Linked DNA regions of Homo sapiens: regions 2 and 3 are each linked to region 1. Evidence: fine-mapped expression QTL. A gene starts in region 1. Each other region holds a variant in brackets. All regions are shown on one strand. Distances are from middle to middle.

Region 1 (4,216 bases):
GAGAGTCTTTAATGTACAAAGTTCAACAAAAACACCTTCAAAACAAATTAGTTCTAATTATGTTTAATATTGGTTTGCTGCTTTATTGAATAATCTACATTTGCTTTTAAAAAAAGGAAATTCACTTAACTGCATGTCAGTCACCCAAGTTTTAAGTGTACAAATGAAATGGAAAACATTTATTACACAAATTTAATTACAATTCTAAGAAATAAACATGCAAATTAGATAGAGTTCAATTTGCAGATGCTAATCCTCATCCTTGATCTTGTTCCTTCCTCCCTTGATTTTCAGTCTGTGCGTCTTCTTGATTCCTAGGGAGCCAGGCAGCCAGAGGTCTGGTTTTTCACAGTCGGAGGATCACTGTTTTAAAGAAGTGTTATATTTAGCACATCTGGTATAGTGGCAGTAAACAAACATTATAGTCTTTGTAACACTTTTGTGCAGGTGCCTTCTCCCGATTTTATTAGGTCTATGCCTTCCAAGCCTCTGCCTTCATTACACCTGAAATGACCCATCTCGACTATGGAGGGGTCCCTAGACAGAAGTTATGAATTAATGATTTTAAAAAATAAACTCTGAGGCCACTATAGGAGAAAATTACTATTTGCAAAATATTCTGATTCCAAGGCTTAAATTACATTCTCTTGAGCAAGGACAATCTCTTGTATTACTTTTTATTTCCTGGAGGTTTTCCCTGGAGGCTCCCCACCCAGAAAGGGTTGCCAATTCAAGTTGCAGCAGGACCAAGGTTGCTTTTTTTTTTTTTTTTAATACGTACGCAGCTCAGGAGGGAAACGGGCGGGGGCGGGCGGCGAGGGAGAATAACTGTTTGGTCCTGCAAAGACATCTGTTTCTCATCTCCGTTTGCTGTGGCAAAGGAGAAGAAAGTCTTTTGCAAAGGGTGGGAAAGGCACAGATTTTTTTTTTAATCACACGCACACACAACAACAACAAAACTAAACCAAATTTAAAAAGACAAGATATCTCGGAAGGTTCCAGAGTGAATACATTATTCGGCTGGAGCCAAGCCCCCAGGGCTAGGGCGGGAGCCCGAGAGCGCGTGGGGTCTGGGCTGCGGGCTGGAGCTGGGCCCGCGTGTCCCCGGGCACCGGGAGGGGAGGGGAGGAAAAGGAGGAGGGAGGGCGGGAAGCAGGGAAGGAGGCAGGGGGCGGGCTGGGGTGGGGGTGCGGGAAAGGCGCCCCGTGTGCAGCCTGAGGAGCGGCGGCGGCGGCCTGAGCAGAGGGAGGGAGGGAGAGCGGGCGCGCTTGTCATGTTCCCTCTCTCACCCTGGGGGCATCCTGCAGAACCTCTCCTCGGAAATCCACGGGGAAATGGCAAACAGGATTGACGGGTTTCACACGCTCCTCGCTAGACAGAGCCGCTCATTACCATAACCGTCTGCAGCGACGGCGGCGCAGCGCCCCAGTCGCGGCGGCGGGACCTGCCGGGACCCTTGCCCGCCGCGCACCCGCAGTCACCGCCGAGCGGGCGGCCGGGCCGGGACCCGCGAGTGTGCACCGGCGGCCGGGCTGGCGCCGAGCCCAGAGCGGACCAGCAGCAGCTCAAGCGCTGCGGCCGCCGCCTCCCCGCTGACCCCGCGGTAAGAGCCGGGCTGGGCGCGGGCCGCGGGGGCGGGAGGGCCGGGCAGGGTGGAGGGCGAGGGCCCCCCGGGGCTCCTGCCCTCGCAGACGGGCACCCACGCGGCCTCCCGCGCGCCCTCTTGGCACCAGGGCTGTGCCGAGGTCACCGAGTGGACTCGCAGCGGCCGGAGCGGAGTCGGGGCGGCGTGGGGGCCAAGGCACAGCTGGGCGCGGAGGCGGCGCGGGCTTTTCCCTGGGCTAGCGTGCGCCGCGGCGCCTTCACCAGGGCGGGAACCGCCGCCTCCTCTAGGGCTGCTCGGGCTGCCACCCGCGCGCACCGAGACAACTCCAGGGGCGGGTGGGGTCAGAAGCTCTGGTGAGACCTCATGGTCCTCCGTGGCCGCTTAGTCCCTCATCGTAGGGGAAGGGGTTAAGTAGGAGGGGTGCCCCCAGGTCCGGATGCCGCGGCGCTTGGCAGGTGGGGAGAGAGGGATTGTGGATGTCAGGAGCGCGCGTTTGCAAGAAAAAGGAATTGATGCAGTAGCTGACACCTTCTGTCCCCCGCCACCTCCGCCCCCGCACCCTCCTCCCAGGCAGCAGAGCTGCGCTGCGGGCGGCGGCGGCTCCTCTGTCCTCAGCTCACCTCCTCGGCGGGCTGAGGCTGCTGCCCGCCTGGTCCACGCCTCCGCCTCTCGCTTCCCTTCCTCCCCTCCCGCCTCTTCGGCCCTAGCAACTTTCCGAGTGCCCAGCTGTGGTCGCAGAAGCAGGGAATAGGCGTCCTCGCCGCCAGGTCCCACGGGCGCAGGGCGCTCCCGCAACCGCGGGCTTCCAGCGGGTTTGGCCGGCAAGGGAGGGAGGGAAGGCCGGGCCGACATCTGCTGCGGGCTGGAGCGCGGGGGCCCGGGCCAGCCCCGCCAGAGCCCTGCCAGCCGCTGTGAGTCATTTCCTTGGAATCCTACCTTTGGTGTTTATTTCCCTTAGAAGGAAACTTGGTTTTTTTTTTAAAAAAAAAAAAGGATAAGACATAAAGAATAATAATAGCTCTTATTCTTCAGAAGAGGCACACGGCTGCGGCACCGTAGAAAGACAACTTGCCTTTGTTCCCGGACACTTGGGGTGTTGTTTACTTTCTCCTGCGGCCAGCGGCCGACCGGGCGCTGCTGGCTACCCGGGGAGGGGCTGAGGGCTGCGGCACCGACACCCCGGGGGTGTGTCTGTGCGGGAGCCAGGATGTGGTTGGTGGCTGCCGCCCGCCTTCAAGAGGTCGGCCCTCCAAACCTCGGACCCCACCCCCGCAACCGCCACACACACACACACCTTGGGCACCAGGGCTCGGGCATCGGAGCACCCCTTCGTGCTCTTTAGGCCCAGCACCTGCAGCCCCAACCACAGGACCCAGCTTCAAGCTCTTGGCCTCGCGGGGCTGCAGCTGAGAAATGTACTTCCCAGGGCAGACAGGTGTACTGCAGGAACGGCAGAAAAGCGACATCTGTTTGTTTAGAAGGGTTGAAGAATTTTGTTCCGCCCATCCAGTCCCTTCCACTACCACCACCAGGAGCCGGACAAGCTATTGAGATCATTTTGGGACAATGTGGAGGTCAGGGGCTTGATGCCATTTAAAACTGGCAGCATCGATCGGGGGTGGAAATAGCCCTTTACTTCCCTGCTTTCCAGTGCTGGAATCAGACTGCTAACTGCTATAATGATCTTAATCAAATGCTCTCCAATTTTCAATGACAGATGGAAGAAGAAGTGAGCAAAGAATGACCTGGAGCCCCTTGTTAGATTCAAGGTGCCGCTGAATTCATAGCTACCCTGTTTTGTGTGCCAGCCACTCCTATTAGCATCATAATTGCTTCTAGGAAAGAACAAGCCCAACTCATCTGGAAAAAAACAAATTGTATAGAAATGCCTGGTAACTTTACTACGAACATTTGCTGGAAAAGCTTGGCATTCTAGCCCTCAGTCTTCTGGGGATGCTGGAAGTGTCATTCCACTACATCCACCTGGGTGTCAAAACAGACATTCAGGAGCCTGAGGATGAAGGGTTAGGGCTTTTTTTTTTCTTATCTTTTAAACCCATGCATAGACAAAACACACTCTAACACCCTCCTGTTGAATCCATCACCTCTGATCTTAGAAAATAAATTTTGCCATAATGTATATCCTTTTCTTTATTTAATATTAATAGAACACGAATTTGTGGACTTGAATTGCTGACGTCAGTAGCAGAATTATAAATCTTATCAGACAGAGAATTATGACAGTTTAGATCTCTACATATAATACGAAGAAAGATTCACGTTAAGCATTTGTGCTTAACGCTGCCCTGTCCAATTTTTCGTGAACATTCAACTTGCCTTCTTAATTTGTTAACATCCAGTGTAAGTTTTAAATAGACTAGGAAGACTCAATTGCAAAATCTCCTCCCCGCTCCCAAATAATCCCAACTCATTCATGTTTTATTCAGATTTACATAAATCACTTGCAGAACTCAGCCTCTCTAGTTTAGGGTTTTGTGTGTAACAGTTCTCAATTTAAAAAAGAAAAACTTAGTAAAATTAGATATTGTGAACAAAATAATAGCCAAGATAAATACTGTTATGCCATGTTTCAAGTTCACGTGCATAATA
Region 2 (4,216 bases), 39 kb after region 1:
CTTTCCTGGATTGTTTCTTTGTTGCTGCTAAACTCCGTCCTGAGCTTGCAGCCCAGATTCTAGCCACGTTGATCTCCTCACAAGCTATGCCTGAACTCCCCTCCTTCCTTCTATCTATCCCTTTCACTATTTGAGTTCACTTCAAAACTCCTTCTCCATGAAGAAGGACCCACGCCAGCCCTCATGGATGCTCTTACCCACTGAAGGCTGCACTGAGCTCAGCTCTGCACCATGCACGGTTCTGGCTGGCCTGTGATGTTTGCGTCTTAATCTCCCACACCACAGGTAACTTATTTGAAAGCAGACCAGGGTGGAGATGTTTCCTATGTCTTTACAGTGTCCCCGAGGCAAGCTCGATATTGGACTAAGTAAATAGCAGGGGCCCAATATCTGTTGCATCTGTTGAATGACTTGATGCAGAGCCTACCTGAGCCCTCCCACACTTGCCCCAGACGACCTGCTCTGTGAGCCTGTAGCAGTAGCTGAATACAGGATAGGAATGGGGGCTGCTTTTCTCAAGACTCTGCTTGCAGAGCTCCTGGGGAATAAACAGCAGGAGAGGCCCTCTCTCTACTCAAGAATCTGAGTTCAATCTGGGGATAGAGGAAGAGGGTTATAGTTCCCCATCCCCATAAGCACCCCCAGATAAATCAAAGAGAACACACCAGCCCACAGCAGTAGCTGAACAAGCCCATTTAGGTATGGCAAATAGATAACAGAATAAAAGACTGACTGAGGCAGGATGATCTTCTCTGGTAGAGTTTTATCCAAGTGAAAGGTCTTAAGCTTGATGTGGGAGACATACAAATGCCACTTGTTAGCCATACCACCTTGTACAAATCACATAAACCCCTCTGAGCCTCCGTTTCCCAACCTTTTTTTTTTTTAGAAGCTGAGTCTTGCTATGTTACCTTGGCTGGACTAGTGGTGGACTCACTGCAGCCTCAAAATCCTAGGCTAAAGGGATCCTCCTGCTCAGCCTCCTGAGTCACTGGATTACAGACATGAGCCACCGTGTCCAGCTCCCAAGTTTTCTAATCTTTAAAATTGGAATAATAATACCCACCACAGGCTGGACATGGCGGCTCACACCTGTAATCCCAGCACTTTGGGAGGCTGAGGAGAGAGGATTGCTTGAGCCCAGGAGTTTGAGATCAGCCTAGGGAACAAAGCGAGACTCTGTCTCTACAAATAATAATAATAATAATAATACCTACCACATAGAATTGCTAGGAGAAGTAAATGAGATAATGTACAGTTGGTCCTGTTAGTTGTGACCTCTGTATTTGCAAATTTGCCTACTCACAAAAATGTATTTGTAACCCTCAAATCAATATTTACAATGTTTTTGGGGTCATTTGCAGACATGCACAGAGCAGCAGAAATTCAAATCACGTTCCCAGCTGAGGCTGGATAAGGCATGCTCTTCCTTCTTCTTTCAGCCCTCATGCTGTAAACAAATGCCCTTTTTGCAGTCTATTTAGTGCCATGGTTTTGGCATTTTTTGTGCTTTTTCTTGGTGATTTCACTGTCTAAAATGGTCCCCAAGCATAGCACTGAAGTGGTGTCTCCTGCTCCTAAGCACAAGAAGACTGTGATGAGATTTACTGAGAAAAGAAGTCTGTTAGATAAGCTTTGTTCAGGCCGAAATGATAGTGTTGTGGGCTGTGAGTTCAATGTTAATGAATCAATGATACATACTTCATAGAAGCTCATAAAACAAGGCTATGTATTGATTGGTTAATGAAAATGTTCTGACCAGAGGTTCGAGGTCTGCAGTGATTTTGTAGGGCGTAAGTACCCTAAGTAATGAGAATGGGCAGTATGTAGAAGTGCCTATATAGTGCATGGTGTAGACGAGACGCATTGAGAAGTGCTGACTCCTGAACTTGGTGAGAAGATGGCAGAAAGCACTCCAAGCAGTTTCTTTCCATGGTTGTTTGTGCTTTGCCGGGAATTTGGATCCTGTAAGAGTCAAACAATTTTTGCTCATAAGTTTCTGTCCCTTTGCATCCATTGAGGTACAGAGT[T/TA]AAAAAAAAAAAAAAAAGTTTCTGTCTTATTTCTCTTGTATCCTGTGGGCGACTCATGTTTCTGCCCCAGACAGGGAGCTTAGGCAGGGGCTGAGTCTCCAAAAGGACTATGTCTCTTGCCTTCTTTGTGTTTTCTACCCTCCTTCTTGTTTGACACCCAGAGGTCCCAACTATCTTGTGTTTCAGTGGTTACTCTCACTGTGGTTCATCCTGGGGTGGGTGGAGGAGCAAAAGCCCTGTCTGGATCCCCGTTCCCCTGCAGGGTGACAGAGAAGTCTCTAAGCCCCGGCCATGGGGGAAAATGTGGGGGCGGGGGAAGGGGGACCCTGACCACCAGCTTTCCCCCCATAGGAAAGGCCCTCCCCTATTGGGCTACTGTCTTTTCCCAGGTGGGGACGAAAGCAGCAAGAACTAAGAAAAAGGAGTAGAGGTTTTCTCCACACATGGGTCTGATTAGACTCTCATTCCTGAGGCTCTCTGGGCTTGAACACTTTCTCTCCAGGAAGCCAGACAGCCAGTTAGAGAAAATCTGCAAACCTGCACTGAGGCCAGGCTTCAGGAGGCAGCCCCGGGTGGGATGGAAGGGACGGGAGGGCTGTGGGCACTTGATCTTTATCACAGCCCTCAGCCTCCCGGCCTCCTGCCAGCTCCCATAGCCCCTGGCCAGGATCCTCCAAGAATTCAGAGCCTGAGGATTGTGTTACCTTCTGAATTCCATTAGCACAGGCCAGCTGGGGGCGGGGATGGGGGCTGGCTAGGGCTTACCTGAGGAGTCGTTTGGTGCCAAGCAGGCGCCTTGGGTCACTTGTTTCTGCCTTTCCAGCTTTGATTCCCCCTTTGCCTTCATTCTCTCACGTTCTCTGCAGGGAAGGACATGAATTGTGTATATGTTAATATAAACAAAAAAAGATAGGGGTTTTTCAGATGTTCATAGGGAAGAGAAGTTAACGATGATACTAATAATAGCAAAACTGTGTGCCAGACACTGTTCTAATTGCTTATATGTATACAGTCCTGCATTGTTTAACAAAGGGGATATGTTCTGAGAAATGTGTCATTAGGCGATTTCATTGTTAGGCGATTTCACCATTGTGTAAACATCATAGAGTGTACTTGCACAAACCTAGATGGTAGAGCCTACTACACACCTAGGGTGCATGGTATAGCCTATCTCTCTTAGGCTACAAACCTGTACAGAATGTTACTGTACTGAATACCATAGGCGATTGTAACATAGGCAATGGTAAGCTCTAGAATGCCACAGGCAATTGTAAGTGTTTTTTGTATGTAAACTTATCTAAACATAGAAAAGGCATAGTAAAAATACAGTATAAAAGATAAATGATGGTAGACTTGTATAGGGTACTCACTGTGAAAGGAGCTTGCAGGACTGGAAGTTGCTCTGGGTGAGTCAGTGAACGAGTGGTGAGTGAATGTGAGGGCCTAAGACTGTGCACTACTGTAGACTTTATAAGCACTGTACACCTAGGTTGCAATAAATTTATAAACAATATTTTTCTTTCATCAATAACAAATTAACCTTAGCTTGCTGTAACTTTTTTACCTAATAAACTTTGAAAAATTTTAAAACCTTTTTGACTCCTTTGTATTAACACTTAGCTTAAAACACACATTGTACGGCTATACACAAATTTTTCTTTGTATATTTGTTTCCTTATGTCATTATTCTATATGCTTTTTTCTATTTTTATATAACTTTTTTGTTAAAAACTAAAACACAAACATACACATTAGCCTAGGTCTACACAGGGTCAAGAACCACCTCCATATCTTGTCCAACTGGAAAGTTTTTTGTTTTTGTTTTTTTTGTTTGTTTGTTTGTTTTTTGAGACAGAGTTTTGCCCTGTTGCCCAGGCTGGAGTGCAGTGGTGTGACCTCAGCTCACTGCAACCTCTGCCTCCCAGGCTCAGGCAATCCTCCCACATCAACCTCCCAAGTAGCTGGGACTACAGGCCTGTGCCACCACACTGGCCTAATTTTTGTGTAATTTGTAGAGATAGGTGTCTCACCATGTTGCTCAGGCTGGTCTCAAATTCCTGGGCTCAAACAATCCACCCACCTTGGCCTCCCAAAGTGCCAGGATTATAGGCATAAGCCACCACGCCCGGCCCCATTGGAAGGTCTTTGGGGGCAATAGTTGTCTCCTGTGATAACAATGCCTTCTT
Region 3 (4,216 bases), 22 kb after region 1:
TCGTTTTAATTAGCAAAAAGGCTGTCTTATTAAAGCTAATTAAAGGCAATTTGGGAACCTTATTTTCATACAATCATAAAATTAGAGAAACAAGAGGCAGGAGAAATGGGAAAAGTCTCAGCTTTTCTGCAGAGGGGGCAGGGAGGAGCTGGGGAGACCCTACCTCCAAGCCAGGCATGCAGAATGCCAGTGCCCAAGGGGGTGGACTGGAGCTCCTAGATTTGGGTGTGGCCTCAGGCAGTGCTGGGGACCAACTGCTGAGAGGGATACTCTGTTCACATCCTCCAACTGGAGTCTCAGAGTCACCTGAACTCCTCCCTCTGCTCTCACACAATTAGTCAATTCTCTCCCTCTAGCTATCTTTACATTGAAAAAGAAGGTGCTACTATTGCACCTCTGCCATTGCACCTGGCAGCCATAACCTAGGTGGTTTAGCATCCATCAGGTGCCTTAGCATCACCAAGCTCCACAGGGGCCCAGACTTCTGAGCACCCAGGGTTATCTACCCTTCTCACAGCAGGGGAGATTAAGGTCCACCGAGGTGAAGTCCACAGCCTCAGCCCTGCCCAGGGTGCCCCCTAAGTCCCCAAGCATTTCCACTCCATCCATTCTGTAGCTGATCATCCTAAATCACCAGGCAAACAGGAATACTTTACCTCCCAGGTTTGACTTTCAATGCCCTCCAGACCTCAGCCCAGGCTACATGCCCAGCCCCACCTTCTGCTCCCTGGGGGGAACCTTCTGCTCCAGCCACTTCTGTCCTCTCAATGTCCTCTCTTGCTGACCTGCAACTTTTCACCTCCCAGCCTTCACTCCTGCTTTTCCCTTAGCCTGGGATAACCTCTCCATGCCCCCACTTATACAAAGAGTAACTTGCCCTCAAGGCCACTTCAAGGTCCACATTTTGTGTGAAGCCTTTCCAGGGCTACTATAGGTCTGTTCTGTGATACATAAAATGTAATATCCCCCCTCTCTAGAATTACTTTTCAACTAGAATCATAGTTTTGGGGGAGATTTTTTTTGGAAGGCATTATAAAGTAGAAATTAAACATGGGCTTTGGAATCAGAGAGCTTAGTTACAATCCTGGCTTCCTATAACTTTGTGACCTTGAGTAAATGTCTTGACTTCTGTAAGCGCAGGTTTCTTCATGAGTAAAATGTGGCTAACTATACCCATAACTAAGTTATTGGGATGGTGTATGTAAGTCACTTTACATAATGCCAAGCACACAATATGAATAGCTGTGGGACCCTTGTCCTTGTTGATGTGGGGGAATAGTTTAGAGTGACAATTTGTTGTTTTATGAGCATGTCCTCCAGAAAAAGAGAGCACCCAGTCAAAGGATAGATTCCATGGCTATCTGAACTTCCACTGCACTCATCCCTAGGGGTTCTAGTACCTCAGTACGCACCCCCATTCCTTCTCTCCAGGGTCCCTTCCAAATCCTAGGAAGGGGCTCTACCCTCGGGTCCATGGGATAGTGGTTTATGGGCACATACTTACTGTAAGTGTCTAGTGTCAGAACTCTACACAAGAAAGACACTAAACATGGGGTTAGCTCCTTGCCTTCTTGTTTTAAGTTGCCCAGTCTCCATCCTCAGTAGACCTCCCTGTAAACAACCCATTCTGGCAGGAATCTAACAGTCTAAAGGGCTCTCCAGTAAATTCTACCATAACACCAGGAATTCTTGCCTGTCCTTAAAAATGCAGCTTTGTGCATACATAGATTTTTTTGTACAGCAGGCTTTGTCCCTCTCCTTATCTGAAGGCCATGGGACAGTGGGTGGCCACGAATCTGCAGGGGGCTCCCCTTCTGTCCTTCCCTGAACATCCTCTGGATGAAACAACCATAGCAAAACTGACCTGGGAGGAAGAGCAATGAGCCCATGCATGAAATACTAGTGTTTAGCTGCCTAGTCTCAAAGCAATTGTTTAAGTAGGGGCCTCAGCCATGCTAATAGCTATTATCATAGGACCTTATGTCTATTAATGTCTCCTCAGCAGAAGGAAATGCAAACTTATGACATTCTGATTGTGATAAGCAGCACACTTTCACCTACGAGGGGCTGTAATCGAAGCAGAAGTGCCT[C/T]ACAAATTAACTAGCAGTCGCCCACACATCAAGCACAGAAGATACTTTCTCTATCATAGGTAAGAAAGGGACTTATTTCTCATCCTGGAGCATCAGTGGCTGTGTCAGCCCCACCACAGCTTCTGATGGGACTGGAGCTACACTGACATGTATGATTAAAGCTCCATGTTATACCGCAGTGGCTGAGTTTTCAAGGAGATGGAGGAAACCTCACAGGACCCCTGGGGCAGGACACAACACTGCTCCTCAGAACATTCCTTTTAAAAAAGTTGTCATGAAATCCAATTAACCAGCTGGAAGGCCATCGTGGGCAGGCCTCCTCGGGGTTAATAAATAATAGAATATGCCCTACATTGGAAGGGGCATCTCTCTTTTCTAAGCTTGCAGGCTGTGACAAGGGCTCCTGGCAGGAAGAGACATGTACTACCACCACGTCCTGGTCCCTAAAACTTTGGTGAGTCCAGCAGTGAAGGTCCCCTAGACAGATGCCCAGAGTCCTGGGGGTACCTTCCCCCTCCCCTACACCGTAAGCCACAAATTCATCAACCCAGCCCCAGGTATGAGGGAATGAGGGGTCCTGTCTTGAGAGAACAGAGCATTAGAATGGGGTCAGGAGCTTTAGTTCTAGCTCCCGGTCAGTCTCATTGTCAGGCAAGCTGTTCACAGGCTCCTGTTCCCAGCTGAACAAGACTGATGGTAGAGAAGACTTCAAAGTGGGCACAGCAGGCTCTCTCTCACTGGTCCCCTCTCCGTGGCTGATCCCCCCGTGGGGAACACTTTACTTCTGTTAGACCAGCACTGCTCAATAAAAATACGATGCGAATCATGAATGTCATTTTCAATTTTCTAGTAGTCACATTAAAAAAAAAAGTTCATTAAAAAAAGTGACATTAATTTTAATAATAAAGGCTGGGCGTGGTGGCTCACACCTGTAATCGCGGCACTTTGGGAGGCTGAGGCTGGAGAATCACTTGAGCCCAGGAGTTCGAGACCAAACTGGGCAACACAGGGAGACCTTGTCTCTACTAAAAATTAAAAATTAGCCAGGTGTGGCGTTGCACATCTGTAGTTCCAGCTACTCAAGGAGGCTAAGCAGGGAGGATCTTTTGAGCCCAGGAGGTCGAGGCTACAGTGAGTTATGATTATACCACTGCACTTTTTTTTTAAATTTTTTTTTAATAGAGACAAGGTCTCACTATGTTGCCCAGGCTGGTCTTGAACTCCTGGACTCAAGCAATCCTCTCGCCTCAGCCTCCCAAAGTGCTGGAATTATAGGCATGAGCCACCACACCCAGTCCCTTAATTTTTAAAAAATAAAAAAAAGTTTTAAATTATAAAACATTTAAATAATATATTTTATTTAACCCAAATATACACAAATTATTGTCATTTTAACATGTAATCAATATAAACATTTTGACTGAGATATTTTATATTCTTTTTTGTCTTGTACTAAGTCTGAAATCTGGTGTCTAGTTTACAATGACAACACATATCAATTAGGACAAGACACATTTCAATTTCAATGCTCAATAGCCACATACTGCTAGTGGCTACCATATCGGACAAGTCAAGGCCTGGATCTCCGTGATCCCTTGTACAGGGAATCATGCAGCTCCCATCTGGCTCACAACCACATCCCCTCTCCTCTGGGCCCTCTGGGCACCATGTTCTTGCTTCTTGGGGACCCTTAGCCCATCCCCCTAGTTCACTCCCAGGGACTGCCCAGTGAAAACTACCCGGCACCAGAGGGTCAACGTTTTGGGGCTGGCCGGCTCTGATCTACACCCTCCAGCATCATCCCCACGGCCCAGAGAGGGTTGTGTGGGACTATCCTAGAGTGGCAGAGTCAAGGACAGGGGAGGCAGGTTGGGGGAGAGGAGGAGTTGCAGACAGTAGCTCCAGTAGTTTCTGGAGTGGTGAGGGCTTTAGTTAGAAGCAGACTGAGGAGCCTTTAATCCTCTCTGTTACCAGAGAGGAAAATGTGGGTGGCAAGTAAAGTCTTGTCAGGGAAAATACTGGCAGGAAGGTGAGCCACATGCCCGAGTAATCGCCGACTCCACCGCTCTCCTTTGATGTAGCACCTCGGTGCCATGCAGGCCAGGCCAGGCCTGTGACAGACAGGC

Which allele goes with the higher level. Alleles are on the strand shown, and positions count from the first base shown. SD is a standard deviation of normalised expression in the study named.
In carriers of allele T in region 2, the expression in subcutaneous fat of the gene that starts at base 2,477 in region 1 tends to be higher than with TA alone (moderate effect, 0.44 SD a copy in TwinsUK).
As copies of C replace T in region 3, the expression in prefrontal cortex of the gene that starts at base 2,477 in region 1 goes down (small effect, 0.31 SD a copy in GTEx).

The links. PIP is the estimated chance that this variant, and not a neighbour inherited with it, causes the effect.
Region 2: its variant is the best candidate, but not a certain one, in a credible set for the expression of SERTAD4-AS1 in subcutaneous fat (TwinsUK, PIP 0.76).
Region 3: its variant is the best candidate, but not a certain one, in a credible set for the expression of SERTAD4-AS1 in prefrontal cortex (GTEx, PIP 0.54).

What each region holds. Positions count from the first base shown.
Region 1 is chr1:210,231,409-210,235,624 of GRCh38, forward strand. It overlaps SERTAD4-AS1 (SERTAD4 antisense RNA 1), which reads right to left and starts at 2,477. Exons shown (of 2, transcript NR_024337.2): 1 at 2,227-2,477; 2 at 48-363. It overlaps SERTAD4 (SERTA domain containing 4), which reads left to right and starts at 1,388. Exons shown (of 4, transcript NM_019605.5): 1 at 1,388-1,603. RefSeq lists an enhancer at 1,266-1,799.
Region 2 is chr1:210,270,253-210,274,468 of GRCh38, forward strand. No RefSeq gene overlaps it. Among named protein-coding and RNA genes, the nearest start is that of LINC02602, 21 kb to the right of the region's middle. The variant T/TA (reference allele first, on the strand shown) is at 2,031.
Region 3 is chr1:210,253,667-210,257,882 of GRCh38, forward strand. No RefSeq gene overlaps it. Among named protein-coding and RNA genes, the nearest start is that of SERTAD4-AS1, 22 kb to the left of the region's middle. The variant C/T (reference allele first, on the strand shown) is at 2,091.